2 separate regions of the Homo sapiens genome follow, and region 2 is linked to region 1. The links come from fine-mapping of genetic effects on gene expression. A gene starts in region 1. The other region holds a variant in brackets. All regions are shown on one strand. Distances are between the middles of the regions.

Region 1 (5,372 bases):
GGGCAAGGGACTTTCAGGACATCGCCCAAACACAGAAATCACCACAAATGGTATTTCGCTGCAATGTTTTAAAAGTCAAAATGGATGCAAACAGTTCAAGATGAACAAAACATCAACATTTTATCTTATTTTGAGACAGAGTCTTGCTCTGTTGCCCAGGCTGGAGTGCAGTGGCATGACCTCAGCTCACTGCAACCTCCACCTCCTGAGTTCAAGCAATTCTCCTGCCTCAGCCTCCTGAGTAGTTGGGATTACAGGCGCCCGCCACCACGCCCGGCTAATTTTTTTGTTATTTTTAGTAGAGACAGAATTTCACCATGTTGGCCAGGCTGGTCTTAAACTCCTGACCTCAGGGGATCCACCCGCCTCAGCTTCCCAAAGTGCTGGGATTACAGGCGTGAGCCACCGCACCAGGCCTCAAAATATCAACATTTCAAATAAAGACAGAGGAACCCTGCAATTCTGAGACTCCACCTTGCCCGCATCCTGCCCTGCCCTGGGTAGCTATTGTGGCCAAGGGGTCATTAGTCCCTGAGATAAGAAGAAATTAGTTCTTGCCGAAGACTTTCTCCAGGGAAGCAGAAGACTACTGGGTCTGGGTGGGTGAGCATTTGGGAAATGTGAATTTCCATGTGTCTGTGTTCCAGAAAGAATGCCCCCTCCCCCCACCGCTTTCGTCCTAGTCAGTGACAGTAGTTCAGCCAGTCATTCTGGTCAAGTGGCCCAAGGGCTGAAGAGGGCCTGGCTTGCCTAAGAATTGAAGCAAATGGAATCCGTAGTCCCATTGTTTTTTTCCCAGAATGTTCCAAATATTCAAACCTCTGGTTAGTTGGGTCTGTTTGGGCAGCAGACTTCCAGCGTTCTTTCCTGGGCGACATGGAAATGGGCTGTAAATTCACCTGGTGACAGGTGCATGCCTGTCACCCTGTGGGCTCTCAGGAAGCGGCCCCACCCTCTGTCAGTGTCCGGCATGCACCTTACTCCTGCTGCTGCAGGGCCTGCGCCCTGCTGTTCCCTCCACATGGTGCGCTAATTCTCACTGCTTGGCTATTCAGATCTTATCTTTGAAAATCGCCTCCTCCAAGAAGCCTTCCCTGAACACTCCAAAGCCTTAAGTTGTCCCTTTGACTATTCTTGGTTGCAGCACCTCATTAAGTTCCTTCCCTTAGACTCACAGCCTTAGCTTCCTGGTGCATTGACAGGCTCCCTCATCAGACTGGGCCCTCCACAGGGCAGGGGCCTGCTGTCTTACGCCTGCCCGTTCTGAGGTCCGGCCAAGGCTGGGTGCGGAATGGGAGCCTGAGAACATCTTCAAAGTGCTGCCCTCAGTTTGGGGGTGTCCAAAGAGCGGATTCTGACACCCGGCTTCCCGCCCCTGATCTTGGGCTTTCTGCTGTAAGCTGAATGGAAGTGAGTGTGTCTGGGCACACTTTCACCCCTCCTGGAGTCTACCTCTGTTCTCTTCGCCCTATTAGCCTCTCCCACATTCCTGCTTTTCAAAGCAGTCCGTGGACACCCCCAGCTGCCCCGCTTGCAGAATGGAAGGATGGATCCTCAGGAGTGGGGTGGGGGGCGTCTGTGTGGCTGGGCGCTGGAAATGCAGACATCCTTTGCCAGGCATCTGATAAGAAAACAGTAAGGAAGGGAAACACGTGTTCTTCTCTCTTGGGAGGAAGGAAAAGAAGGGAAAGACCGGCAGGACCCTTGTTCATGAGCGAGGACCTGCCTGGAAAAAATGCAGGAACAGCCAGATGCCGGGGGATTCCCGGAAGTGCTGCTCATCGCCCCCGCCGCCCCCACCCACAGGTTCCACCCAATGCTTTCCACCCTTAAGGCCCAAAGAGCTGGCCCTGGGTGTGCGGGTAACCGAGACGCCAGTACTAGGGCTGTGGTGGCCCTCCTCCCCATCGATTGTAAGTTACAGAGAAAAAGAAAACTCTAAAATAAAGTTTCTCAAGCTGCTTTTATTGGGACTTCAAATGAGATGGAGAAAACCTCCAAGAGCACCACGAAATAGGATGATGATGATTACTCGTATGTCTTGGGATGACTTGGGGACCCCACAAGGCACCCTCGGTGCGCCAGTGTGGTGCTTGTTCCGGGAGTGGGGGACACACGCGCCTCGTGGGACTCCAGCTGCTGGCTGGGCGCGCAGTGCCCAGGAGCGGGAGGGCCTCGGCGGAGGCGCCGGGCCGGGGCTGTTGCCCACCGCGCAGGCCGGGGCGGGGAGAGGAAGGGGGAGGAGGAGGCGCCTAGAAAAGGAGGCGCGGGCCGGGGAGGTGCGGAGAGGGCCGGGCGGCAACGTGCGCCTCGGGGCTGGGCCGGCCTGCGGGATCGCAGCGCAGCGCAGAGGCGAGGCTGGGCCCGGCGGGCGGGAGCCGCGGAGGGCGGAGGGCGGAGGGCGGCGGCGCTGGCAGGAGCGCGGCCCACGGCGGCGAGCAGGCTGCAGGCCCGCGGGGATCCGGGGCGCGGGGGGCGCCGGGCCTGATCGCCGCCTCTCGCGGTGCCCGCAGGTCCCCGGGCGCGCAGCTCTCGCCCCGCCGCCGCCTGCCCCGGGCCCCGGAGCGCGGTGGAGAAGCCCCCGGAGGAGCGGGGGGCCCGCGCCCCGCGCCCCCCAGACATGGTGGGCCACCTGCATCTGCAGGGCATGGAGGACAGCCTGAAGGAGCAGGGCCGGGAGGGCTTGCTGGACAGCCCCGACTCCGGGCTGCCCCCCAGCCCCAGCCCCAGCCCGCCCTTCTACTCCCTGGCGCCCGGCATCCTCGACGCGCGCGCGGGGGGCGCCGGCGCCTCCTCGGAGCCCCCGGGACCCAGCGAGGCCAGAGCGGTAAGGAGGCGCTCTCTCTCCCAAACGGGGGACCGCGTGGGCGGGTGGGTGAGGGCTGCCCCCAGAGACGCGCGCCACTGCAGCAGCAGGACGTGCCTCCTCCTCTACCTGCCCCGCAACCACGAAGGTGGCCAGTGACAGCCACGCTTCTCAGGTGGGGACCAGGGTGTGTAGGGGGAGGTGATCCAGGCTGACCCCGGACCTGGAGACGGCTCCCTGGCGGTGGGCCTCCCTCCAGAGTGATTCTTCCTATTGTCAGTAATAATGGGGGGCTCATGGGGCGGGGTAAAGGACGGTCCGAAATTCCCAAAGAAGTTGGCTGTTGGCTAGGTGGGCTTGCGCCCAGAGGCCCAGCATGTTGCAGACATCTGGACCCGGCCCCTCTGCTGCTCCGGGTGCCCTGTTTACTGTCCGGGCGCTGCCAATGTGAAAGCCTTTTCTTTCTTTCTTTCTTTCTTTCTTTCTTTCTTTCTTTCTTTCTTTCTTTCTCTCTCTCTCTCTCTTCTTCTCTTCTCTTCTCTTCTCTTCTCTTCTCTTCTCTTCTCTTCTTTTCTTTTCTTTTCTTTTTTTTAAATAACCAAACCCAGACAGGATTCCTTCCTTCCCGGGATGTTAAGGCATGTTGACGTGGAGCTTAGGCGGGAGGGGGAGGCTGGAACCTCGGGTCAGGAAACTCAGGAGTTTGTCTCCTGCCAGACTAAGTCCAGCCTGGGGGTGGACTCCGGTGGGGACCCAGCTTGGCGCCTTGCCTGAGACTGGGCACCCCCCGGCAGGCGGGGAAGCATATGGGCCGAGCGGGCGCCTTTGCAGCCTGAGGAAATGACAAGTTGAAATGAGTGATTGCCCATCCCTGCCCGCTCTCTGGCTGCGCCCTGCCCACCTTAACAGCTTTACTGCTGGGGCGTGTGTGCTGGCTCCACTCCCCTTTCCTGGGGCCCCGGGGATTCTTGCCTGGCACTCACAGGGCAAAAAAGGCCTCCCCGCCGCTGAAAATCCTCCTCCCCACAGCGGAAAGGAGCGGCTCCCCGGCCTCAAGCCTCAGGATATGACCTTCATTCGTGCCTTGCTTGTTTCTTAGCCTGGTGGGTCCCAAACTTGGTCGCCCATTGGAATCACTTGGAGAATCTTTAAAACCCACCCACACTCACCGCCCAGATAGTCTCACTGAATTGATAGGGGGTGCAGCTCGGCATCAGGAGGGTTTCAGTCTCCCTGGGTGATTGTACTGTTCAGCAAAGTCTGGGAGTCACTATCTTAGACCAAATCATGCAGCAAATTTGAACTTTGGTCTCTTTATGGGAGCCTGGCGGGTGGAAGGGGCAGTGAGGACTTCCAGGAGTTGATAGAGGTGACCAGGGCTGTTTGAAGTGAACCTGATCTTGCTGTCTAAAGGGGGCCAGCTTTCCTGCCAGAGCCTCTGGGACTTGGCACTGTCGCCCATTTGAGCTGCACACTTTGGGACTGAATCCCCGTGGTGCCTTGCACAGTGGGGCTTGGAGAAAAACGACCTGGAATCCGCCTTCTCCTTGGTTCCTTCCATGACCCAGAAGCCTCCTTACAGAGGGTTTTCTGGAAGCGTTCTCTGCCATCCGGGCCAGCCCGTGGCTGCCGCAAGAATAGCATGGCTGGCTTACTTGTCTTGGCTCTTCTACTTGACTTTATTTTTTCCCCTTCCTGCTCACTAGATGCCAGGTATGAAACTGTGTTGCCCTGATCTTCTAATTTGGCTTAAAAGCAAAGCCCGGGGCTGTTTCCTCATGGGTTATGATACTTGGCATTTAGATAGCTCATACCGTGTGCCAGGATAACTGTCCTAAGCTCTTTATTTACACCAATTCATTTAATTTTCACTATATTCCCATGAAGCCTACACTCCAATTAGCCCCATTTTCCAGAGGCGGAAGCCAAGGCACAGAGGAGGTTAGCAACCTGCCCAAAGTTGCCCAGCCAGGAAGCGGCTGTGCTGGGCTAGACCCAGAGAGTCTGACTGCAGAGTCTGCCCTTCAACCTCATATTATCCCCCTTTTCACTGTGCAGCTAATTAACTACCTGTGATTTTTTTTTTATTGGAAAACAAAATGCCTGTGTACCTACCAGGTTTGAAGGGCTGCTTTCAATAAAAGGGAGAAAGGATTGCCTGGCGCCCACTCTTCTCAGCTTTGGGGCTTGCCGCTGTGGCCATGCCCACCCACCCATCGCCCACCCCACAGGGCGCCCCACCTCCCCGTTAACTCCCGCTAAACTTTGCTGAGCGGTGTTTAACCGCACCCTGCTCACTGACGACTCAGGGAGAGTGCTTTTTAGGTGCAAATATCGGCACCCCATACTGTCTCAGGACAAAGAGGCGGAAACCTGTGCTGCGCCTCGCGGCTGAGGGTTTCCAACACCCGAGGAAGAGGATGGGGTGAGCGGTGCCGGGTTTCCATGTGGGCCTCAGGTTCAGACCGCGTTTGGCAGGGTGGGTGTCTTTGTTCCACTATCCAGTGAACGACACCACCTTTCTGATAAAAGTTGGTGGCATATGCCTCAGCTGCTGGGATGGACT
Region 2 (5,372 bases), 58 kb before region 1:
CTGTGGGTTTTTGAAAAAGGAACTAACATGCAATACCACCACTTGTGATTCTTCACAGTTAAAAAGGAAAGAGAAGTTTCACCTATGAGTTTTATACAGGGAAAACATGAACAGGTTTGATCAAGAGCCACAACATAAATTATAAAGTCAAAAATTAACATCATTAGAGATTTTTTTTGGCGAATTATCATGCCTGATGGTCCTTCTGCATCACTTTAATTCTTAATATTGTCATCATTGCCATGATCACCATCACCATGACAGCATTGCAGTTTGAGGATAATAAAATGTTAAGGACCCTAGAGAATATCTGGGGAGAGGCCTTGTCATACTCATGAAGAAATCCGAGGTCCAGAAAGATGACATGAATTGCTAAAGCATTTTTCCATGCAGTCCTCTGGTAGGTCTGGGTTCCAGTTAATCCAATTGTCACCACCACCACCACCATCACCACCATCACCTCCATCATCACCATTACCACCATAATCATCATCACCACCACCATCATTATCACCATCACCATAACCACCACCATCACCATCACCATCACCACCACCATCATCACCATCACCATCACCATCACCACCACCATCACCACCATCACCTCCATCATCACCATCACCATCACCACCACCATCACCATCATCAGGGTCATCACTGTCATCACACTGTCATCACTGTCATCACTGTCATCACCACCATCATTACCATCATCACCACCATCAGGACTACCATCCACAAATGAGCCATCTTTAGAATGCCTCAATGCTTGAAATACCCTAAGGGTGCCACAAGTGGTTCCAGATGAAAAACTCCTTAAGAACATTGGGAACCGCTATCTTGTCATAGCACCAACACTCTTGTGCAACGCCCCCTAGGCTGAAAACAGATCAGGGTCGTCTCCTGCCAGGAAGAGAAACTTCTTATGGCTCTGTTCAAATTCCCTAGAAAAATATCTGTGGCTGAGGAAGTTGTATAGTAAATTTTAGTGGTTTGTACATACAATTTCTAAAACTCCCTTTCCCCTGTTATTTATTTGCTTACTCTAATTTAAGCACTTAAGGAAGACCCAAAATTCAGTGAGTGAGTCCCCATCAACCACCAGAAACAGAAAACAGGTGTGTTGTGCTGACAGCCACATGACCAAGGCTGGGAGGGCTCCCCTCCCTGAGACGCCAAGATAAACACACCCACAGCATCGCCCTGGAAATGGTGGCTTACAGTTCAAATGCTCAGGAGGGGATAGGAAAAAAAAATCAGGACAGCACCATAGAGAACAATTTCCGTCATCAACTTCTGTGCTCCTCCTAAGGGCAGAGGACCTGCAAATTACACCACAGCCCCTTGAGTAGTTTCCACAAGGACCGATGTTGATGGGGATCTAGAAAAACAAAGGCAAGCCATGCCCCAGACAAGTCTCCATCTCAGAAGCGGAAGTCCTTGGCATAAGCCAACCATATTGGCAAAGCCCTCGCTGGGTGAAAAGTGCAAAGCGAGGACAAATTGATGATGAGAAAACCAAGTCTGAAGATTTACTTGGACAAGCTAAAGGCAAGGAGACAGAGCTGGAGCTGAAAAAAGAAATCCAGTGTTAACAGGAGGTGCCCAGTGTGTTAACGGCTGTTGTCCAATATGGTAGCTGCTGGCCACATGTGGCTACTGAACCCTGAAATGTGGCCAATGCAACTGAGAAACTGGATTTTTAGTTTAATTTAATTTTAATCAACCTAAATTCAAAAACTGATACTTGATTCAGTTGTTAGGAAACTTTTGAAGTATGTTTGAAACAACTTTAGAAGGTGAATCTAGCTTTTCAACTGTGAACGGAGTCTTTTATGGAATTTACAGTTTTTAAATAACTGATGAAATGTACATAACTTTACAAATTTTCCATTAACATATAACATGCAAATTGACATACAAATAAGTATAAAATGCACATTGGATTTCGAAGACTTGGTACCAAAAAATAATGTAAACTATCTCATTCGTATTTTTTAATATTGTTGGCCTGTTGAAATGGTAATATTTTAGATGTGCTGGGTTAAGGAATATATGTTATTAAAATTATCTTCACCTACTTCTTTTTATTTTTTCATGTGGCCAATAGAAAATTTAAAACTACATATGCAGCTTGAATTCTGTTTCTATTGGACAGGGTGGCTGCAGTCAGTCGGGAGCTGACAGATACTTCTGGCCAGAGCGGCTGTTGACACCGCTCAATTGTTCTGGTGTCTCCTGTCCTGTGCCCACTCCCCGGCCACCACCTTGGGAGTAAATGTTAGCTGAGAAGCTGTTGCTCACCCAGAGAGGAAGTTGGGTGTAATTAGAAAAC[C/T]GAATCATAACTTAGATATTTTACAGCTCCCTCTGTTATCATGGACTCTGGAACATTCCACAGAGTCTCAATACCCTGAGTAATTTCTGGGGAATTCTGACTCTGATCACCCAAGTAATTGGGTCAGCCTTGGTCTGACTTCTCAAAACCCCAAAAGTCCTATGCCCTGAATATGCCAGACTCTGTGGACCAGCTGATGTACCCTGAGCTGCCGCAGGAAGATTCTAGAGTTTGAGATACATAAGAATACAATGGTTTTGTAAATCTAAAATTATTTCAAATTAAAAAGTTTATTTTAAAAAATATGTAACAAGTCTTGGGCCTGAAGCCAACCTGAAGATTCCTCATTTTATGACCCCAAGATATGGCTTAGTAGTTCCTGAAGGAGTCATTCTCTAGTTCTCTGCCTACCAATATGGCAGCCACCAGCCCTGTGGGGCTACTGAGTGCTTTCTCCCTTCGGGTGGAGATGGATCACATGGAGATACGCCACACATGTGAAATACACACCGAATTCCAAAGGCTTAGTATGGAAAAATCATGCAAAATATCACCTTAATAATTTGTATATACTGATCACGTGTTGAAATGATAATATTTCAGATATACTGGGCTAAGTAAATTACATTATGAAAATTAATTTCACCTGTTCACCTGTTTCTTTTCACCCTTGTTAGTGTGGCCACTAGGAAATTCAAAATACACACACAGTTTGCACTTGTGGCTCAAATTCCATTTCTTTTTTTTGAGATGGAGTCTTGCTCTGTCGCCCAGGCTGGCGTGCAATGGCACCATCTCGGCTCACTGCAACCTCTGCCTCCCGGGTTCAAGCGATTCTCCTGCCTCGGCCTCCCGAGTAATTTTTATATTTTTAGCAGAGACGGAGTTTCGCCACGTTAGCCTTGCTGGTCTCAAACTCCTGACCTCAGGTGATCCACCCGCCTCGGCCTCCCAAAGTGCTGGGATCACAGGTGTGAGCCACTGGGCCTGGCCTTTTTTTTTTTTTGAGATGGAGTCTCGATCTGCCGCCCAGGCTGGAGTGCAGTGGTGCAACCTCAGCTCACTGCAACCTCCGGCCCCTGGGTTCAAGCGATTCTCCTGCCTCAGGCTCCCGAGTAGCTGGGACTACATGCGTGTGCTATCACGCCCAGCTAATTTTTAGCAGAGACAGGGTTTCACCATGTTGGCCAGGCTGATCTCGAACTCCTGACCTCAGGGGATCTGCCTGGCTCGGCCTCCCAAAGGGCTGGGATTACAGGCGTGAGCCACCGTGCCTGGCCTCAAATTCTATTTCTATTGGACATTGCCACTCCAGGACATCCTTCCTCCACCCTCAGAGGATGAGCTGTTCTCCTCTGATGGACACCTCATGAGATCCTATTCTGCATCTGCCCAGTGTGGCCACAGACAGGTCCCACCTCTGTAAGCCTCGTTCTCCTCGAGGAGAGGAGAATGCCTGTAACAGGTGAGAGAGCCTGGAAAATGGGTACTATAGTATTGTCTATGTCAGGGGGATGCTATGAGGAGTATTACCTGCAAAACGCTCGCTGCCCTGCCCACGGCATCAAAACCCTTCAGTCAATAAATCAAATATTATTTTTCATCTCTACTCCCACCCTTCCATCCGCTCTTGAGTCTGACCCTTTTTCATTTACCTCCAAGTTTTGCTTGCTTTCTCAACCCTCCTCCAAAACATCTTCCCCTCTTTCCCTACAAAACCCTTCCATCTTCAAAGATGCTTGGTTCTTCCCAGTTCTTGAAGTAAAACATCTCTTTCCTTGGACTTGTCTGATGACGGACTGTTCGATTTCTCTCCTTCCCTTTGCAACTCATGCGAGTGACCCACGTTTCCTTTGTCTGCTTTTGACCCGTCCACTCCTTTCAGGACCCCTGGTCAAGCCAGCCTCTGCCCACAGCCCGGGACTGACAGCACTCTCCAAAATTCACCGGGATCTTCATCTCACCACGCCTAAAGCCCCTTTACCCAGTTTCAGCCTTCTTAGCTTTTTAATTTTTTTAAACCAAGAACAAGAAAACTTCAAAATGCTCATTTAAAAGTACTTTTAATTACAGCAATCCAGCCCTCTCCCAGTGGGTCCCTAGGACTCTGCACCTTCCTGGGATGAGTGGGTAGGAGGTTGCCTGCATTTTTAATCTCTAAGCTCTTTGCGTTTGGGGAGTGAGGTCGTTCCTGTTTGGAAAGGCTGTTCTTATCTGGATGGAGCCCCACCTGTTTCCCTGGAGGGCAGAGTTCGCTGGGGAGTAACAGGAGTTAAGGCCTCCAGGTCCTCACAATCTTCATGTCACATGAGCTAAGCAGTAAACAGCTCTCCAGGACCCAAATAAAAAGGTCTTTATGGAGAGAACAAACACAAAGAAATGCCAGGATCCAATTCAAATGAATAAATAAACCCAGTTCCAAAGGCTGCAGGCCACAGGATTTCGGGGAGACTGAGCCAAGCAAGTTGGTTTCTTGAGAGTTGTTTCTGAAAGGGAAGGAGGAAGAAAGATTTCAGGGCCCGTCAGCAGATCCCAGCATCTCCAGACCCAGATCCATGAGCCATCTAGAAGTGAAAGAAGTTTCCCAACCAACAACTGTCCTACCAAATGTTGCGTTGGAAAATCAAAGTGAGATGACTCTCACAGGACCCGGGAACAGGGGACTCCAGGCATCCCGGGCCTGTGCGGGAGTTGGGGACCTGGGAGATGCTGACAACCAATGCAGGCTCTAGCAATCAGTGTCTTGTGATCTCAGCAACGCTGGGTCATCTGTCCCATGCCAGCATGGGGGGCTGGCCACTCTCTGTCCTGGCCTCTGCCACTCCATCCTTGTACAGCTTCACCCACCTCACCCCCTTCTCTGATGACTTTTTCTTTTCCCCACTGTTTCTTGTACTCATAATGTTCACACAAAGCTTCTCACAGCCCCGCGCCTGATGGTCCCAGCACTCTCTGCCTTCTCCGTGTCCAGGTTTCCGCTTCAGTTATGATGAGCCAACTCTCTCTGTATTCCTTATCTGAAATCCTGAGAATCAGA

Evidence for each region.
Region 2: its variant is fine-mapped to the expression of RFLNA in fibroblasts (GTEx, PIP above 0.99). The same link has a PIP of 0.9 or more in aorta, tibial artery and visceral fat.

The regions. Positions count from the first base shown.
Region 1 is chr12:124,292,810-124,298,181 of GRCh38, forward strand. It overlaps RFLNA (refilin A), which reads left to right and starts at 2,284. Exons shown (of 3, transcript NM_001365156.1): 1 at 2,284-2,827. The coding sequence starts at 2,621. All of the region lies in intron 3 of ZNF664-RFLNA (ZNF664-RFLNA readthrough), which reads left to right.
Region 2 is chr12:124,234,490-124,239,861 of GRCh38, forward strand. All of the region lies in intron 3 of ZNF664-RFLNA (ZNF664-RFLNA readthrough), which reads left to right. Among named protein-coding and RNA genes, the nearest start is that of RFLNA, 58 kb to the right of the region's middle. The variant C/T (reference allele first, on the strand shown) is at 2,336.